Regions from separate parts of the Homo sapiens genome. Here all the other regions are reported to be linked to region 4. Evidence: microRNA targets listed by miRTarBase, many of them from high-throughput screens and not tested one by one. Region 4 holds a microRNA gene; each other region holds the end of a gene's coding sequence.

Evidence for each region. Region 4 holds the annotated microRNA hsa-miR-21-5p (UAGCUUAUCAGACUGAUGUUGA, at 1,899-1,920, opposite strand). A microRNA usually pairs through its seed, bases 2 to 8, with sites in the 3' UTR of a target mRNA and lowers its output. Matches are read on the target gene's strand: a 7mer-m8 pairs with bases 2 to 8, a 7mer-A1 pairs with bases 2 to 7 and ends in A, and an 8mer does both.
Region 1: miRTarBase lists PATE2 as a target of hsa-miR-21-5p. Seed matches in the 3' UTR shown: 7mer-m8 at 2,385-2,391.
Region 2: miRTarBase lists VPS54 as a target of hsa-miR-21-5p. The part of its 3' UTR that is shown has no 7-base or 8-base seed match.
Region 3: the mRNA of TSHZ3 is a reported target of hsa-miR-21-5p. Seed matches in the 3' UTR shown: 7mer-m8 at 1,242-1,248.

The regions. Positions count from the first base shown.
Region 1 is chr11:125,774,730-125,777,729 of GRCh38, forward strand. PATE2 (prostate and testis expressed 2) reads right to left here. Exons shown (of 4, transcript NM_212555.3): 4 at 1,384-2,789. The coding sequence ends at 2,653. Among named protein-coding and RNA genes, the nearest start is that of PATE2, 2.6 kb to the right of the region's middle.
Region 2 is chr2:63,890,902-63,894,086 of GRCh38, reverse strand. VPS54 (VPS54 subunit of GARP complex) reads left to right here. Exons shown (of 23, transcript NM_016516.3): 23 at 552-1,937. The coding sequence ends at 657. It overlaps UGP2 (UDP-glucose pyrophosphorylase 2), which reads right to left. Exons shown (of 10, transcript NM_006759.4): 10 at 2,527-2,967. The coding sequence ends at 2,860. Among named protein-coding and RNA genes, the nearest start is that of UGP2, 51 kb to the right of the region's middle.
Region 3 is chr19:31,273,863-31,277,089 of GRCh38, reverse strand. TSHZ3 (teashirt zinc finger homeobox 3) reads left to right here. Exons shown (of 2, transcript NM_020856.4): 2 at 1-2,145. The coding sequence ends at 543. Among named protein-coding and RNA genes, the nearest start is that of TSHZ3-AS1, 46 kb to the left of the region's middle.
Region 4 is chr17:59,839,966-59,843,192 of GRCh38, reverse strand. It overlaps MIR21 (microRNA 21), which reads right to left and starts at 1,927; the gene lies at 1,856-1,927. It overlaps VMP1 (vacuole membrane protein 1), which reads right to left. Exons shown (of 12, transcript NM_030938.5): 12 at 938-3,227. RefSeq lists a silencer at 672-866 and an enhancer at 2,152-2,881.

The DNA.
Region 1 (3,000 bases), not on the chromosome of region 4:
TTAACCTATAACCTTGGGGAAAACAATTTTATCAAGTAGAGTGCAGAGCTTGTGTACATTTTCTTTTGCCTTTAAGCTTACAGGCTCCACTCATTTACAAAGTTACTCAGATCAGAAACTTTTCCCCCAACTCAACTCAGAGAGATTGTTTCACACATTTGTAACAGTTACATCATTTTTGTCACATTGTGCATTCCTTCCTGGAATCCTCTGACTTCCTAAATGATTTTTCTTTTAATTCTCATACATTGTTTCATTCTTTGTGCAGTAAAGTTCTATGGGGTTTGACAAGTGCATAGTGTCATGTATTTACTGGTATAGTATCATACAGAATAGATTCATCACCCTAAAAAATCTTTTATACTTTACCTATTCAATCCCTTTTTTCCTCTTAATCCACTGGCAGTCATTGATATTTTCACCAACCCTATACTTTGGTCTTTTACAAAATTGGAATCAGAGTACACATGTTCCCAGACTTACAATGATTTGACTTACAAGTTTTTTAAACTTTAAGATGTGTGAAAGCAATAAGCATTCAGTAGAAGCCATACTTTAGTACCCATACAAGCATTCTGTTTTTTACTTTCAGTAGAGTAGTCAATAAATTACATGAAATACTCAATTACATGAGATACTCAAAGCCAATTATAAAATTGGCTTTGTGTTAGATGCTTTTGCCCAACTATAGGCTAATGTAAACATCCTGAGCACATTTAAGGTAGGCTAGGCTAAGCTATGATGTTTGGAAGGTTAAGTGTTTTAAATGCATTTTCAGTTCACAGTATTTTCAACTTGCAATTGTTATAACAGGATATAACCCCATCATAAGTTGAGGAGCATCTGTATGTAGCCTTTTCAGACTGGCTTCATTAACTTAGCAATATTCATTTAAAAATGTATCCATGTCCTTTCATAGCTTGATAGATCATTTCTTTTCATCATTGAGTAGCATCCCACTGTTTGGATGTACCATAGATTACATATCCATTCACTTATTGATGGGCATCTTTATTGCTTCTAGTCTCAGGCAATTATGAATAAATATGATTTTAACATTTGTGTGCAGGTTTCTGTGTGGGCATAACTGTTCAAATTGGTTGAGTAAATATCTAAAGGCATGATTACTGAATGACATAGCAAGAGTATAATCACCTCTCTAAGAAACTACCAACTGTCTTCCAAAACAGCATTACCATTTTGCATTCCTGCCAGCAATAAATGAGATTTCCTATTGCTCTATATCTTTGACAAAAATTGCTACTGTGAGGGTTTTTTATTTTTTTGATTTTGACCATTTAAAATGTATAGTTGCGTAATATTGTTGTTTTAATTTGCAATTCCCTAGTGAGATATGATGTTAAGCATATTTTCATATGCTCATTTACTATCTGTATATCTTTTTCTATTCAGATTTTTTGGCCAATTTTTCTGGCCTTTATTTATTTATTTATTTTTTTATTTTACTTTAAGTTCTGGGATACATGAAAGAAAGTGCAGCATGCAGGTTTGTTACATAGGTATACATGTGCCATGGTGGTTTGCTGCACCCATCAACCCGTCATCTAGGGTGCAGTCAGCCTTATAAGGACAGAAACACCAGGGTTAGTGTGTATCCAAGGAAAATGTGCCACCTTGGCCACAGGTGTGCTCCAACATCAATGCTACTCAGTTTCTCTTCCTATCTGTTTCTGTGTCTTCCTTCTTCTCTTCCCACCACTGTTACCCATATATGCTACCTTTCTCACACTTTCTGCAAACTCATAACTTCCTCTTACACAGGGCACTCTGTTACTTGAACACTACCTCATGGTATCTATTTACATCCTATTATCTTCAACTACTACACCACCTGCCACATTATCAGCATTTTGTTTGCTCAGTCCCATGAGAAGAACCTGACTAGCCATCCTTAAAAAAACACTCTGTTCCCAATCCAATCACCTAGTTCAACCATGTGCCCAAGGCTGCCTGGCCAGCCAGGGCAATGATAATTCAAGCCAATTCCACCCACAGCAAGTTATTTCTCAGATCTTAGTTTTTACCAGTTGAAATGCCCCCTGAAGTTTTCTTTGATGCTCATCCCTATGTCTGTTCAGTTTTTTTTTTTCTGCCCTGAGGTTCCCCCAAGAGCTCTATCAGAGAAAGACTTGGCCCATGCTGCCAACACACTGGGAAGCTGGGGTTAGCCCTCTCCAGAACCCACGGGCAGAAAAGGACAGTGCCAGAAAGTGTCAGGGCTAATCCAAAGAGAATTCCAACGGAGAGGAGTGTGTGTGTAGATGAGGATAGAGGATAGTCACAGAATTCTCAGTACAAATTGGAGATTATTATGGCCCAAGTGTTCACATTTTCATACAGGAGATAATAAATGACCAAGTCTGAGCTTATTCATGGCAGTATCACGTAAGGAGAGCAAAACCCCTCCCACCTGTTAGCGACAGGGATGTGCAAAGAGTGAGTCTAGTGCTCCATCATCAATAGGCTCCGCTGTCCACACTGCGTCTCCTTATGCCTGCTTGTCTTTTCACTATGAGCTGGCTTTCTCACTCTCTACCAATGCATAGAAGAGGAGAGCAAAATTCAGGTTCAGGGAAGAGAAAAAGAGCGTAGTGGTTGAAAAAGAACCCAAAATCCAGGAGAGACGTAGAACTAAACTCCCTCAGGGAGGTTGCAGTAGTTACTATGATCACAACAGATGAGCTCTACCCTCTTCGTGAACCCCAGGAAGTTGATGTCCTCACAGCTGGTCATACACGACAGTTTTGAATAATGATACATGCTCTGCCCTGAGGAGGTAAAAGAGAGGAAATATGATCATAATGACCTCATTTCCTTTTACTGCGTTCCTAGGAGTAATCTGTTTTTGTGTCCTCACTAACCTTTCTCTAGGCCCAAATGAGTTCCAAAGCTGAGTCTGTTAATTGCTGACCCAGAGAGTAGATTTTATTCCCTGCCAGGTAAGGGACATCAGCCTCTTTTTCACTCAATATGGTCTTA
Region 2 (3,185 bases), not on the chromosome of region 4:
TTACCATTTTTTCAGTTTATTGGTTATTCAGGTGTTTTCATCTGTGACTTCTTATGTTCTTTCCTATTTTTCTCTTGGGTTTTTAAAGAAATATCCAGTATCGCTTATATACATGAATACTAGTCTGTATTTAACGCCTTAGATGACACTTAGAAACCTAGCCTGCTTTTCCCTTGAGTTTACTATTTTAGTCAGCACTCCCATACTCTAGTGCTAACCAATCAAAAACATTTTAGTTTAGCCTGTTATTTTCTCTGTATATTAATTCATGCTGTTTCAAGATAAATCTGATTTTCTTGGGCTGAATTTATCATGAAACTGACTCTAACAGCCATTGGTTTATTCATTTTCCAAATATTTATTATTGAAGTACAGCATTAAATGGCCTACTTATTCATAGCAGGAATCCTGCTAAGTAAAGTATTTGGACACTTGGGCACTAAGAAATCTGAATTTTAGATAATAGGACTCTGACTCGGTGAGCACTGTTACTTTAATTATCTGAATAGAAAGTTTGAGATTTAAAAAATAATTTTCTCTCCATTATTTAGGTTGGTCACAGCAGATGTAGCTTTTTACACTGGAAATCTTCAAGCCTTAAAAGGCCTTAAAGATTTGGACCTAAATATGGCCGAAATTTGGGAGCAGAAGAGGTGATGTCATCCTGGAAAACTGGGTAGTTCATCTGACCATGGGATGTGTTTGTTATGAAGAAAATCTGGATGCCTGTGATTCGAGAATTGAACCTGAAACCCAAAGTGAACTGGGGTGGGGGAAGGGAAAAAGGAAAGTATCAAGTGTTGGGAAACTGGATTCAGTGGGATCTACAAGGAATGTCATTTTTGTGCATCCTACAGTGAGGAGTAACTGATCAGGTGTCTATAACATTTTTCATTCTCTCTGGAAACAGACTCAGGTTTCTTTGGACCAAATCCAAAAGAACACATAGCTGTAACACAGCTGTAGTTGACTAGAATGCTCTGTATACTTTATATTAAAAAATGCTTTGCATTTCTTCCAGTGCAATGAAATTCATATGGTGTCCCACCTTATTTAATGATGGTACAATTTAAAATCTTAGTCAACTTCTGTAGAAAGTTTTCTCTATGAAAGTAAAGCTGTTTGAAAAATTATTATTTTTTTACAGATCTTTCTATAAAAAATAAACATCTTTTGATTGCTTGGATTTAGGAATTCAATTTTTGTTTCAGTGACCAATGTCAAGTTGCAGGCTTTGTGTGTTGCATATTTAATATTTCTACTACCACCGTATGTCAACTGGGTAAAGCCTTCCAGAGCTCTCTAAATACCTGAAAGACTTAAGCCTTTTTTTAAGTAATTAATACTTAAAAAAAAAGATCCTGGCATCTATTTATGCAACTAAATACTTTTCAGAAATGGTATATAAAAGGCTACAGTTTAATATCTGTATTTTTATAAAAGTATGATGAAGGGTTTGGGGTGTTTTTATTTGTAGCAGAGGTAAGAATATGTATTCATATAATCTGCCTACTTTTGAGTTCTCATATTAACATTTAGATAACATATGAAGTATGGCCCCCTTGGATCCTTGTTTTTAAGTTACTTTCGATGTGTATACGAACAAAGACCAGGGAGAAACAGAACTTTTAAAACTATAGGCTGCTGTGTTGGGGCCAGAAATAAGGTGACAAGTAAAGACTTTTATAATACCTACCTTCAAAATTAGAATCAGCAGCACTGTACAAATAAAGTGCCTGTGCTTCACCTCACACCAAGAATCTTGCCTAACCCTGTCAGAGTGCCTAATATCCTGTGGTGATTATGTATAATGAAACAGTCTTATTTTGTGCTCTTTGGTTTCTTAAAAGGAAAGCTTGTTTTCTTTCCTTTATCATTACAGAGGTATGTCTTTGGTTCTTAAACTATCTGTCTAAAATAAAGCTGTAAAAAATTAACAGACTTTAAAAGGCAACTTTTTTTTAAGTGGTATATTGTGAACTTTAAACAAGCAGCCTACTCAAAACAAGTATGGATGAATTTAAAGAAAAGGCATAAATTGAACTACCAGCAGACCTGAATGGAAAGATTATTAATGATCATTTTTTCAGTGATAATAAACAAGCTTCAGGAAATGAAGCTTCAGGGAAAGGGAACTTTTTATGAAGCTATACCCCCTACCTCACTATAGAAGAGTACAAGGATGTGAAGAAATGCCTTCCCTTTGCCCACCCCCGTCAGCTGGGAAAATAAATGCCACTTTGTTTCAATAAATGGAGAGTTTGTGGAAAGCATGGCAGGCATCCCAGTTTTAGAACTAGATGAAAGGTAGGTACTAAAGAAAATACCTTCAGTTTAATTCCTGTGGAAATAATGGTATGATTAAGATTCTTAGAAATGCCAAAAACTGGACTCATTAAGTACACACTGGCTAGGTAACTAGCCAGTGTGTACTTAAAGGGCAAATCTTCCAACTAATATAGTAACTGTCTAACAACAATAAACCAGTTTATAGTTAGCATTATAAAGTACCAGTGTACACAAGTATTGCTTCACTGCTTTATTTTTGAAATCACAAGCAATTCAAAGTGATCATCATTGAGGCTTCTGTTAAAAGTTCTTCCAAAGTTGCCCAGTTTTAAGATTAAACAATATTGCACTTTAAGATGAACTAACTTTTGGGATTCTCTTCAAAGAAGGAAAGTATTGCTCCATCTGTGCTTTTCTTAGACTAAAAGCATACTGCAGAAAACTCTATTTTAAAAATCAACACTGCAGGGTACAGTAACATAGTAAAGTACCTGCCTATTTTAGAATCCTAGAGAACATTTCATTGTAAGAAACTAGCCCATTATTTAAGTGTCCACAGTATTTTTCATTTCAGTGGTCCAAGATGCGAAGGTTTCCAGACACAATCTTGTTCTCTAATACTGCTCCAGGTGGGATATCAATTCTGTCACCATGATTTGCAATGATGATAACCGTTCCCTAAGTGACAGGGAAAACAAAAGAGTGTACTTGCAACTGAAATGCAATTTGATTATCTTACAGTGATCAAGTTTATGTACAACTTTTTTTTTTTTACAGTGAAGTAACTTTTTTTATAAACAATATTAAACATGAAAAACAAATAACAGTTAAGGAAAATTGTAATGTGTCCTTCTGTAACAATCCTGGCAGTAGTTCTAGATTCTCTGTCTCCTTGT
Region 3 (3,227 bases), not on the chromosome of region 4:
CACCTCCTGATCCTCCAGGCCCAGTTTGCCGCCAGCCTCCGGCAGACCTCAGAAGGGAAGTACATCATGTCAGACCTGAGCCCCCAGGAGCGGATGCATATCTCCAGGTTCACCGGGCTGTCCATGACCACCATCAGCCACTGGCTGGCCAACGTGAAATACCAGCTTCGAAGGACAGGTGGAACAAAGTTCCTCAAAAACTTGGACACTGGCCACCCCGTCTTCTTTTGTAACGATTGTGCGTCCCAAATCAGGACTCCTTCCACGTACATCAGTCACCTAGAGTCACACTTAGGCTTCCGGCTACGGGACTTATCCAAACTGTCCACCGAACAGATTAACAGTCAGATAGCACAAACCAAGTCACCGTCAGAAAAAATGGTGACGTCCTCCCCCGAGGAAGACCTGGGGACTTCCTATCAGTGCAAACTTTGCAATCGGACCTTTGCCAGCAAGCACGCTGTTAAACTTCACCTTAGCAAAACACACGGGAAATCTCCGGAAGACCACCTTCTGTATGTCTCTGAGTTAGAGAAGCAGTAGCATTTGCTTTTGATAGAAAGGACTGCAGTTTGCTTTGAGGGAAACTGTGGAAGGCACCTTCAGGCCCCCTCTGACTTGTTGTTCTTGGCACATGTTCTTATTTTAACTGCAGAGAATCACTCTGGGCTGGACTGTTTTGTATAACTGTACAGTGTTTAATAGAGGTGCATAATCAGCTGTTGTTACTGGTAAAATATGAAGGTTAAAATGCAGTGGTAAGTGTTTGGAACTTTGTGTAAACGGGATTTAGTTGTGAGCATCCTCCCGATGCTTCAAGCTGCATGCATTAACAGACAGTTTAATTAAGCATTTATAACGGAATCAGGCACACCTTTTCCACGAGACTCGAGTGTGCTGGCATTTCTCACCCTTTCATCTTTAGCCCTCTGAGTACTTTGAAGCACTTTTGCATTAATTTGGTTAAAAAATAAAATAAAATAATAATAATGTATGAAGCTCTGTTTTTTAAACTCCTTACCAGCTTAGTTATAATGAATAATATGAACCTCCATTTATGCAGGTCTGCAGGGGTATAACACGCCTTGAAATTTAAAAGAATATTATTTTCACATTGAAACATAGATGTATATATTGTATAGATTTCAGACTCTCTTATGAAAAAAAATGTGATTGTGGTTAAATGACCTTTTTCTTGCATTTATAGCAACAGTGTTTTATGCACCTGCTATGCTCTGGGCATAAGCTGTGCCTATGTATAGTGTATATTTCTTTTTTTCTTTTTTTTAAGGTCTATGGGTTTTGTTTTTTACATGCAAACATTGTAAATTATACAGAAGATACCACAGATAGCATTTATAAAGTATACAGAAACATTATCTGAAAGCAAAGTATGATAGTTTGTTTTGCTATACAGTACATCTATATTGATAGAGGTTCATGTTTAAATTATACATATTTATTAGCATCATATTGTCATTTGTTTTGAGCAGTCTGAATAAACGAGACCGGGAAAGACATCCCTGGCAGGCATCAGAACTATTTTGCACATGATTTTTAAAGGTATTTATTAGAAATCAAAGAACACTCAAAATAAACTCAGTGCTCAAAGGGTTAAGTCTATTTGAAAAGGTTAAAAAAAAGAACAAAAAAAAAAAAAGAACTTGTACTGTATTTCCTAAACATTGATAAAGCCTTTAAAATGTTTGTACTGTAATACTTTGCTTAAAAGTCATGAGGCATTCTGTGATCCAACCTCTTTCACTTATTTATAAGCCCTCTTGGTTGCTATTCCATATTGTAGGATGCCTTTCTATTTCAATTGGTAACTTTCTGTTTTGTTCTTCCTAATTATTCTCCCAAGATCCCACACTGCAGCTTTATCTTTAGGCTTATGAAAGGTAACCCGTGGTTACCGGCTCTCCAAGTGATTCTGTTCTTCTCCATTTTTGGCAGTTAATTTGCAGAAGTAACTGACAGCTGACACCATATGAGAACCTTTGTATAAAATATTGGCATGTAAACAGCACAGACACCGTAACACACTCTGTGCCCTGTTTGGTTGTTGACAATGAAGCACCATTATGTGACTCTTCATATAACCCTTTTTTCTACGGCAGCATTAAAATTGTCTTTTTGCTATAATTTTGTGTTGCGTTCACAATTATGTCTGAAATGTGCTACGACTAACGAGCACATTAAAATTAAATTGTATGCGATCTGTTTATGACGGAGCTGGTTGCTGCGGCTGCCAGGTGCTGGCAGTCGGAAGCTGTGCGTAAATCAGGGGGAGTTTTAGTGAACTTTGGCGTTTGGAGAGCAGGGAGCACTTACTCAGAGGCAGCTCGAATAGGATCTGCACCGAGAATAAACATTCACAAGAAAGGAAGATATGCCTATAAGGTTAGATGCTCAGTGCAGAAGGGATATTGCCAGACCCCCAGGATCAGAGCTTCCGGTCACACCTGGTGACCTGCATGGGGGTCTGGGGTTTGATCTCTCTTCTGGATGCCCGGGGTTCAGGGCCCTGCACTGTCAAGGAGGCTGATGGGAAAGAAAGCTTTGAAAGGGTGACTCCTTCCTGTTGACTCAGGATTTTCAAACAGCGGGAAACAGAACCAATCGGGTCAGACAGACTTTGGGGTCCCAAGGTTCTCCCTCCTGTGTTAAAACAGCCACAGATAAGCAGGCAGGGGTGTTGTGGGAGGAGACTGAACCCATCCATGGGAGGAGGGGGAGAGCATTTATATGATAATCACAAGCTTTTATTAGCCCCGGCAAATCATGCCAACAAAACGCTGGGAACATCATGTAAAATTGTAAAATACCTTTATTACTATATTCAAACTACTCTTGCAGTTATGCAGAATCATAGCTCCTAACCTAGAATTATACAAATGAGAGATGTATTACATCCATGTAATACATAAAACACCTCAACTTAAAAAAAAAAACACATATTTTATTAAAAATTTAAGCCCTTTCAGAGATGTTCGGCAACACGCCTACGGTTTTTCCGCTCATCCCCACCCCTTTTTCTCAAGAGGAGTCCAAATTTTTCTGTCTACTCTGTTTTCTCTCGGCATTCCATCTTTCTCCGGGTTTTTAGGGAGAAACTCACTACAATTTAAAATGAGTTGTTTGGCAAATAGAGAGTGCTGTGTTAGCTAAGCTCTTGCCTTGGGATGTGGGCACACAGGTGGGTTTTACGGCCAGGCAGGGAAGAA
Region 4 (3,227 bases):
TATGTTTCAATAATTAACTAGTGTATTTAAGAAACTTCATTCTACGTGGGCATGGTGGCTCACGTCTGTGAACCCAGAACTTTGGGAGACCGAGGCAGGTGGATCACCTCAGGTCAGGAGTTCGAGACCAGCCTGACCAACATGGCCAAACCCCGTCTCTACTAAAAATACAAAAACTAGCCTGGTGTGGTGGTGGGCGCCTGGAATCCCAACTACTCCAGAGGCTGAGGCAGGACAATCGCTTGAACCTGGGAGGCGGAAGTGGCAGTGAGCCGAGATTGTACCATTGCACTCTAGCCTGGGCGACGGAGCAAGACTCTGTCTCAAAAAAAAAAAAAAAAAAAAAAAAAGTAACTTCATTCTAGCATTCGTAGGGAATGGAGAGGTGGCCACTATCCAAATGAAACTAAAAACCTTTTTCTTCCCAGACTCATACTCCAGATTATGCACACAGAGAATACAGAAAACTATGGGAAAACTGGACATTGCACATTTTCATATGACATCATCTGTTATTTTTTTTGTCTTGCTCTGTCACCCAGGCTGGAGTGCAGTGGCGCCATCTCGGCTCACTGCAAACTCTGCTTCCTGCGTTCAAGGGATTCTCCTGCCTCAGCCTCCTGAATAGCTGGGATTACAGGCGTGCACCACCACGCCCGGCTAATTTTTTATATTTTTAGTAGAGATGGGGTTTCGCCATGTTGGCCAGGCTGGTCTCAAACTCCTGACCTCAGGTGATCTGCCCGCCTTGGCCTCCCAAAGTGCTGGGATTACAGGTGTGAGCCACCGCGCCCGGCCGACATTGTCTGTTTTAAGGGAGGTATTCCTCAGCTCTTCGGTGATAAACTGCTGATGTATTGCACTGCCTGACAGTCACCAAGTTGGAACATGATAAATACTGCAGATGTGTAAGGCACAAAATGAGACTTATACAAAGTAGAGATGGAATCGCAAGAATTCCCAGGCCCTCTTTTTATTTACAGTGATACCAAACCATCCACTTGCAAATTCTTTGGTCTCCCATCAGCTGGAATTAAGTAGGTACTGTGTATCTTTGAGATCATGTATTTGTCTCCACTTTGGTGGATACAAGAAAGGAAGGCACGAACAGCTGAAAAAGAAGGGTATCACACCGCTCCAGCTGGAATCCAGCAGGAACCTCTGAGCATGCCACAGCTGAACACTTAAAAGAGGAAAGAAGGACAGCTGCTCTTCATTTATTTTGAAAGCAAATTCATTTGAAAGTGCATAAATGGTCATCATAAGTCAAACGTATCAATTAGACCTTCAACCTAGGAAACAAAATTTTTTTTTTCTATTTAATAATACACCACACTGAAATTATTTGCCAATGAATCCCAAAGATTTGGTACAAATAGTACAATTCGTATTTGCTTTCCTCTTTCCTTTCTTCAGACAAACACCAAATAAAATGCAGGTGAAAGAGATGAACCACGACTAGAGGCTGACTTAGAAATTTATGCTGACTCGATCTAAAAAAAATTATGTTGGTTAATGTTAATCTATCTAAAATAGAGCATTTTGGGAATGCTTTTCAAAGAAGGTCAAGTAACAGTCATACAGCTAGAAAAGTCCCTGAAAAAAAGAATTGTTAAGAAGTATAATAACCTTTTCAAAACCCACAATGCAGCTTAGTTTTCCTTTATTTATTTGTGGTCATGAAGACTATCCCCATTTCTCCATAAAATCCTCCCTCCATACTGCTGCATTATGGCACAAAAGACTCTAAGTGCCACCAGACAGAAGGACCAGAGTTTCTGATTATAAACAATGATGCTGGGTAATGTTTAAATGAGAACATTGGATATGGATGGTCAGATGAAAGATACCAAAATGTCAGACAGCCCATCGACTGGTGTTGCCATGAGATTCAACAGTCAACATCAGTCTGATAAGCTACCCGACAAGGTGGTACAGCCATGGAGATGTCACGATGGTAGGCAAAACAAGCAGACAGTCAGGCAGGATTTGATAAAAAAACAAAAACAAAAACAAACCAAAAAAACCCAGGCATTTCTGGCCTGTTAAGATCGAACCCCAATTCTATTCTATTCTGACATAATGCTCATAATGCTCCTAAAGGAAAAAAGTAAAATTGTTTATTTTCCTCCCAAGCAAAACAAAATGAACAAGTTCAATCAAAAACATCCCAATGGAAAAAAATCACACTAAGAATAAAACACTTACAGAACGGCAAGAAAACTGGGTTAACATATAAATTTGTGTCTGTTGAAACCAGAGTACATGCTAGAAAACATTAACACAGATACGACAGAGTGTGGTTTTTTTTTAGAAATGGGTAATTTCTCTCTCCAGTATCCTTTCACTTGTATGAGATATTTCTCCTCTCCTGTTTTCACAAACCAAGAAATCCCCAGGTAGGCCAATCCCAGAGGTGCCATTTAGCAGTATGCAGCAGCCCAGTTTCAGCATAACAAAACATGCCTTGGTAGTGGCTCTCTCATGCAAATAAAAGAAAGCTTAAGAAATTCTTGTTGTAGGTGGATTAGGCAAGGCTGCCATTCAGCTGGTATAAGCTAAAAGTAAAAAATCAAAACGCTCAAGAAAACGGACACAATTTTGGAATGATTAAAGATGTCTTTATAAAGTTTTTTTCAAGACTTCATTCTAAATACACAGAATAAAAAATGGTGTCAGCTCACTTGTAAGACACCAACCAGATTTTCCTTATACTGTCTCAAAATTTAAAGATCAATTTCCCCAGAGGGTGTGCAATGCATCATAAAATGGCCCTTTTTTGAGGATGGGAGAGGAAGGGTTGGGCAGGATGGAATATTAAATTGTAACATGATAAACATGCAAGACTGTTATCCAATCTAGATAATTTATATACATTTTGATGACTTAGGAAAACAAAGCAATCATTTGTGACAAGCCTAAAAAGCTTGACATATTTAACATACTTAGGAACTTTTTTTGTGCGGTGGGAATTCTCTAATTGTATCATGTGGGCCTTTTGAAAGTAACAAACAGAAGGCCAGTCTGTTGCAAGTTTGCTGCTGAACATCACATTCCACCCTAAGAAAACACAAGGTGGATTGCATCGAGGGTGGATACCTTACCTTAGCACAGAAGGAAAAAGTATGTCAGTGCAAAGTATGGACTAAACTGCTTTCAGGAAAAAAGTTGTAAAAATTGATACAGGTTGGAAAAGGGAATTTTCCTTCCCGGCTTGGAGTCCTCCC